Regions from separate parts of the Homo sapiens genome. Here region 1 is linked to region 2. Evidence: fine-mapped expression QTL. A gene starts in region 2. The other region holds a variant in brackets. All regions are shown on one strand. Distances are between the middles of the regions. Region 1 holds the start of LOC124904654 (a long non-coding RNA gene). Region 2 holds the start of HOMER3-AS1 (HOMER3 antisense RNA 1).

Region 1 (2,902 bases), 610 kb before region 2:
GCTTCGGTGTCCCCTTGTGGCAGCCAGTGGTTACTGCAGTTTTTTTGTTTGCCCTTTCAACAGTAAGGGTGGCCAATCAGCGTTCCCCATCCCCCTGGCTACAGGGATTGGTTAAAGAAAGAGCACGGAATTTACCAAGGCCAATGAGATTCTCCCCTGGGAAGGATACCGAGGGCTGGGAGGGAGAAGAGCTGGTTCCTGGGGAGTTAAAGGGAAAGTCCAGCACCCCTTAGGCTCTGTCCTCTGGAAGAAGCTTTCTGCAGAAATAATCCAGCAGACACAAGACAACGGAGGTACTCGGTGGAAAGGGAAGTATGGTTTGAGCCCCTGGATCCAGCTATAGTTGAAGCCACAGCTATGATGAGCTTAAATGAGCCCAAGAAGTTTTTTTTAATTGCTTCATCCACTTGGAATTTGCAGTCTGTCCCTGGCAAAAGAGCCAGTACTAATGCATATCTGCTCTGTGAACTCTTCCTTAGCTGCCTTGCTCAAAAGCTAATCATTCCTTCTCTTATACTTTGAACTTTAGTACCCTCCACTGATTTCCATCATTGCCTGGTTTATGCCATGTTGTAATTGCTTGTTTCAGCCCTCTCAACTTTGACTTGTAGGAGCAAGGACCTAAGAGGTTTCCTGGGGCTCTATTTGGGGCTGTTCAGGACAGTTTACCCTCCCCTATCATCATGAATGCATGACCCAGGCTGGGGCAATCAGAAGGCTTCCCTGGCTGGCTGAGCATGGTGGCTGATGCCTGTAATCCCAGCACTTTGGGAGGCCGGCCGGTGGATCACCTGAGCCCAGGAGTTCGAGACCAGCCTGGGGAACATAGCGAGACCTCATCTCTCCAAAAAAAACTTAAGAAGAATTAGCTGGGCGTGGTGGCACGTGCCTGTAATTCCAACTACTTGGGAGGCTGAGATGGGAAGATGGCTTGAGCTTGGGATTTCGAGGCTGCAGTGAGCCATGATCATGCTACTGCACTCTACCCTGGGTGACAGAGCGAGATCCTATGAAAAAAAAAAAAAAAATCTTCCTTGGGATGGTTTTGGGATTGCAGAGCTGGAGTGATCGGCGATCACAGTCAGGTATAGCCATGGCCATTTCTTCACTGCAGAGTCATGGCCGTGTCTAAGCCTGAGCCCAGCTGTATCTGATGCTTCATAAATCTTCATTCTTCCGTATTCCACTAACCAAAATCCTATTCTGGATCCAGCTTAAATTATATTTCTGACCGGGCACAGTGGCTCACACCTGTAATCCCAGCAATTTGGGATGCCAAGGCGGGTGGATCACCTGAGGTCAGGAGTTCGAGACCAGCCTGGCCAACATGGCAAAACCCTGTCTCTACTAAAAATACAAAAATTAGCCAGGCGTGGTGGTGGGTGCCCGTAATCCCAGCTACTCAGGAGGCTGAGTCAGGAGAATCACTTGAACCCAGGAGGCAGAGGTTGCAGTCAGCCGAGATCATGCCATTGCACTCCAGCCTGGGCAACAAGAGCAAAACTCTGTCTCAAAAAAAAAAAAATTGTATTTCTTCCAGCAGAAACCTAAGAAGTCTAGATCAATGTACGTCTCCAACTAACAAAAATACCCTACCCACTACTAAAAAAAAAAGAACAGCATAAAAGCCAGTACTGGCAAGGTTGTGATGAAACTGGCAAA[CAT/C]GTGTTTCCTTTTAAATGGGAAAAAAGTTGGTATTATATCTCAAAAGCTATAAAAGTATCACACCCTTCAGCTCAGCAATCCATTTCTGAACATTTCTACTAAGGAAGTCTTTCGGGTGAAGGGAACCACCATGCCAGGGCCTCACAGCAATATCGCCAATTCTAAAAGAGCAATATTTTGCTGGGCGCAGTGCCTCACACCTGTAATCCCAACACTTTGGGAGGCCAAGGCGGGTGGATCACTTAAGGTCAGGAATTCAAAACCAGCCTAGCCCAACATGGCAAGACCCCGTCTCTACTAAAGGTACAAAAACTAGCCAGCCATGGTGGCGTGTGCCTGTAATCCCAGCTACTTGGGGGGCTGAGGCATGAAAATCGCTTGAACCTGGGAGGTAGAGGTTGCAGTGAGCTGAGATCACGCCATTGCACTCCAGCCGGGGCAACAGAGTGAGACTCCATCTTAAAAGTAAATAAGTAAATAGCAGGTTTTTTTAAAAAAAATTAGCTGGGCCAGGCGAGGTGGCTCACGCCTGTAATCCCAGCACTTTGGGAGGCCAAGGCGGGCGGATCACGAGATCAAGAGATCAAGACCATCCTGGTCCACATGGTGAAACCCCATCTCTACTAAAAATACAAAAATTAGCTGGGCATGGTGGTGATCACCTGCAATCCCAGCTGTTTGGGAGGCTGAGGCAGAAGAATCGCTGGAGTCCAGGAGGTGGAGGTTGTAAAGAGCTGAGATCGCGCCAGTGCACTCCAGCCTGGGCAACAAGAGTGAAACTCCGTCTCCAAAAAAAAAAAAAAAGGAAACGCAGACACCCTCCTGGGTTGCGCTTCGCTGGTCAAGGCAGTGACCCTCTCCCATCCGGGGAACCAGGAGCCTCACATGGATCAGGCCCTTCCTGATCCATGGCCACCTGAGCTGAAACAAAATATCATTTGTACCTTGCCCAGTGCATTCCTGGGGTGCAGGCAACCAAAGAACAGAGGTTCATTTGCCCCTGTCCTTGGCCGCCTTCATATCCCAGAGTCAGAAGAAGCAGAGATTCCTCAAATGGGTTTTGTTTTGTTTTGTTTTGTTTTTGTTTTTGTTTTTACTATTTTGAGACGGAGTTTCGCTCTTGTTGCCCAGGCTGGAGTGCAGTGGCGTGATCTCAGCTCACTGCAACTTCTGCCTCCTGGGTTCAAGCAATTCTCCTGCCTCAACCTCCTGAGTAGCTGAGATTACAGGCATGTGT
Region 2 (2,902 bases):
AGACCCAAGGTTGTCACCAGGACTCCTGGTGCCTCTGCCCCACCCAGACCCCACCCTGACCTTGGCGCCTCCGATGCTGATGATGCGGTACACATTGCGGGTGGCATCGTAGAAATAGGAGACAGTGAGTGCGTGCTTGCCCGCTGGGATCCAGTTTCGCTTGGTGGCTGGGTCAATTTGGAACACGTGCGCCCGTGTGCTGAAGATTGGCTGCTCCCTGCGTGGGGAGAGGGTGTTTGGTGGGGGCCAGGCACCCCCACTTAGAAAGCTCAGGGCCAGGCTGGGGGAGGTGGGAGCTCACCTGGCTGTGGACATTGGTCAGGCTGGGATGGGCAGGCTCTAGGGGGCAGCCAGAGAGGTGGCAGGAGCACTGGTTTGGCCCCTAGGGAGAGAGGAGGGACTATGAGTGTCCCTCAGGCCAGGCTGAGGGAGGCCAAGCAGGTTCCATCTCAGGACCCATCACCAGGTGTGCCCGTCATGGAACTTTCAATCAAAAAGGCAGGAGAGGCCCAAAGTACACCTGGTGCTTTGGGAGGCTGAGTCAGGAGGATCCTTTGAGCCCAGGAGTTCGAGACCATCCTGAGCAACATGGCGAGACCCCATCTCTACCAAAAATTTAAACAATTAGCTGGGTGTGGTGGCATGTGCCTGCCGTCCCAGCTACTGGGGAGGCTGAGGTGGGAGGATCACTTGAGCCCAGGAGGTCAAGGCTGCAGTGCAGTGAGCTATGGTCAGGCCACTGCACTCCAGCCTGGACAAGAGAGTGAGACCCTGTCTCAAAAAAGAAAGAAATTATAAAAAGAAACAAAAAGGTAAGATAATTATTATAGATAACTCAGAGCAAGCAGACCCCATCTTTCTTTGTCTAGGGGAAGCCCCCACAACACCCTGTACAGGAGATGGCCCTCTGAGAGGAGCCTGGTGGCCGCTGACATCCAGATGTAAATTTCTCATTGTCCTGGTTATTGCACCCCCGTGAAGTCCCCTCCATCCCAGGCTGAGCTGTGGAGGCCAAATCTCTGCTGAGTTCTTTCCACCACATTCACCCATGACTGGCCAGAGCGGGGCTCTCCACCAAAAAATGGGGCGTTGAGAGGTGTGTAGTACCAGGAGACCAGTTCCCCACTACACCCTGCAGAGGGACCCCACCCCCAGCAGCTCCCACCCTAGGGCAGAAGCACACCTTGAAGTCCAGAGTCCAAATCCCCAGGGAGCCCCCAGCCAAGTTAAAAAGACAAGATGTAGACAAACAGCCAATCCCAATGCCCACCATGAGGGCAGAGCAGAATCCACACTGGGAGACCAGGGCTCCCCAACCTCCCCATTGGGCCATTCAGCAACCCCGAATCTGCAGGGGACCAAGGAGGAGTTTGGAGGAGGGGGAAGACAGGTGGGGGAGGGGAGGCCCTGGCCCAGCGGCCTCTGTGGTCAAAGGGGGGATGCCCCCCCTATCCTGTCCTGGGCAGCTGCTGTCCTGGTCACAGGGTCTGAAACCGGAGCCCCTGAGTGGGGGTGGGGCGGCAGCTCTGGCCTGGACTGGGGGCGGGTCCTGCGCCGGGTGGGAGTTGGGGAACACAGGGGTCCCCGGAACCCAGGCCCTTCCGGTCCGGCAGCTCCTGCTGCGACTTGCAGCGTTTGGGGAAAGTTACTCACCAACTAGTCATGCGCCTCGGATGCCGCCGGCCACGGGGCTCCCGGAGGGGGGTCCGACACCGCCCGGTGCCCGGGATCCCCAATCTGGCCGGTGGATGAGGCCCCATCCCATGCACCCGAGTGCGGGGGACGGGGGGGTTAATATTAATTCAGGATCCCATCCCCACCCGAGGCAGGACACCCAGTGCACGCCCCAACTCCGGGACGCGGGCTCTGACCCTGGAACTTCCGAGATTCCCGCGACGCCCCCTGTCTCTGGGTCCAGAACTTCGGGGGACACCTCTTCTGCCTCCTCCAACCCCAGGTCGGTAACTCCGGGGACTCCCTTCGTGACTCCTCCTCTAACTGGGTCCGGGACCCCGGTCCTCCGCGTTGTCCTAGACTCCTAAACTTCGAGGACCCCCTGCCACCCCTCCAGTCCCTGGGTCCGGGACGTCCGGACCCCTCCCACCCCAGTACCCCACCCCAGGTCCGCAGCTTTGGGGACCTCTTCGCAGCCTCCTCCAACGCCGGGTCCAGAACTTTGGGAACCTCCCACGCAGTCCCCTCTCAGACCCTGAATCCAGAACTTCGGGACCCCCGCGCTCCCTCCAGCCCTGGAACTTGGGGACCCCTCGCGCCGCTCCCAGTCCCGGGTCCGAAACTTCTGGGGAACCCCCACGCCCTCCCCTTGGCCCTGGGACTTCGAGGCCCCCGCGCTCCCAGCGCAGGCTCGGCAGGCCGGGCTCACCCTGCCAGGTCGGCGCCCCGCGAGTGTCCAGGCGCGAGTCGGGTGCGGCCCCCGCGGCGCTGACTCCGCGCTGCCGGGCGCCCCGCTCGCTCCCTGGCTCCCGGGCCCGCGCCCTCCGCGCCGCCCTCCACGCCGCCCGTGCCTTTGTCTGCGCCGCCGCCGCCCGCGCCGCCTCCGGTCCCATCGCGGCCGGTCCCGACGCGGCCGCCGCCCGCCCCGCCTCCCCGGGCCGCCAAGGCCGCCCCGCTGCGCCCCCTGCCGGCTTTTTGCACTGGGAGAGGGTATGGGGGAGGGGATAAGGGGGAGGGGCGGGGGCCGGGACTGGGGAAGGGACGGAGGATTGAGGGAGGGGGTTAGGGGCGGTGGAGGGGGAGTGGGGGGGGGGGTTGCGTGGGGTCGGGTTGGGAGCAGAGGGTGGGGACAGAGAGACAGACGGAGAGGGACATCTGGGATGAGAAAGAGACCCAGAAACAGAGACACGGGGGAGACAGGCGGAGAGATAGGAAGCAGATGGAGAGA

Evidence for each region. PIP is the estimated chance that this variant, and not a neighbour inherited with it, causes the effect.
Region 1: its variant is fine-mapped to the expression of HOMER3-AS1 in prostate (GTEx, PIP 0.98).

What each region holds. Positions count from the first base shown.
Region 1 is chr19:18,328,487-18,331,388 of GRCh38, forward strand. It overlaps LOC124904654 (a long non-coding RNA gene), which reads left to right and starts at 239. Exons shown (of 2, transcript XR_007067158.1): 1 at 239-293. The variant CAT/C (reference allele first, on the strand shown) is at 1,663.
Region 2 is chr19:18,938,668-18,941,569 of GRCh38, forward strand. It overlaps HOMER3-AS1 (HOMER3 antisense RNA 1), which reads left to right and starts at 1,587. Exons shown (of 3, transcript NR_134913.1): 1 at 1,587-1,957. HOMER3 (homer scaffold protein 3) reads right to left here and starts at 2,550. Exons shown (of 10, transcript NM_004838.4): 1 at 2,384-2,550; 2 at 302-382; 3 at 61-217. The coding sequence starts at 315. RefSeq lists a silencer at 2,514-2,713.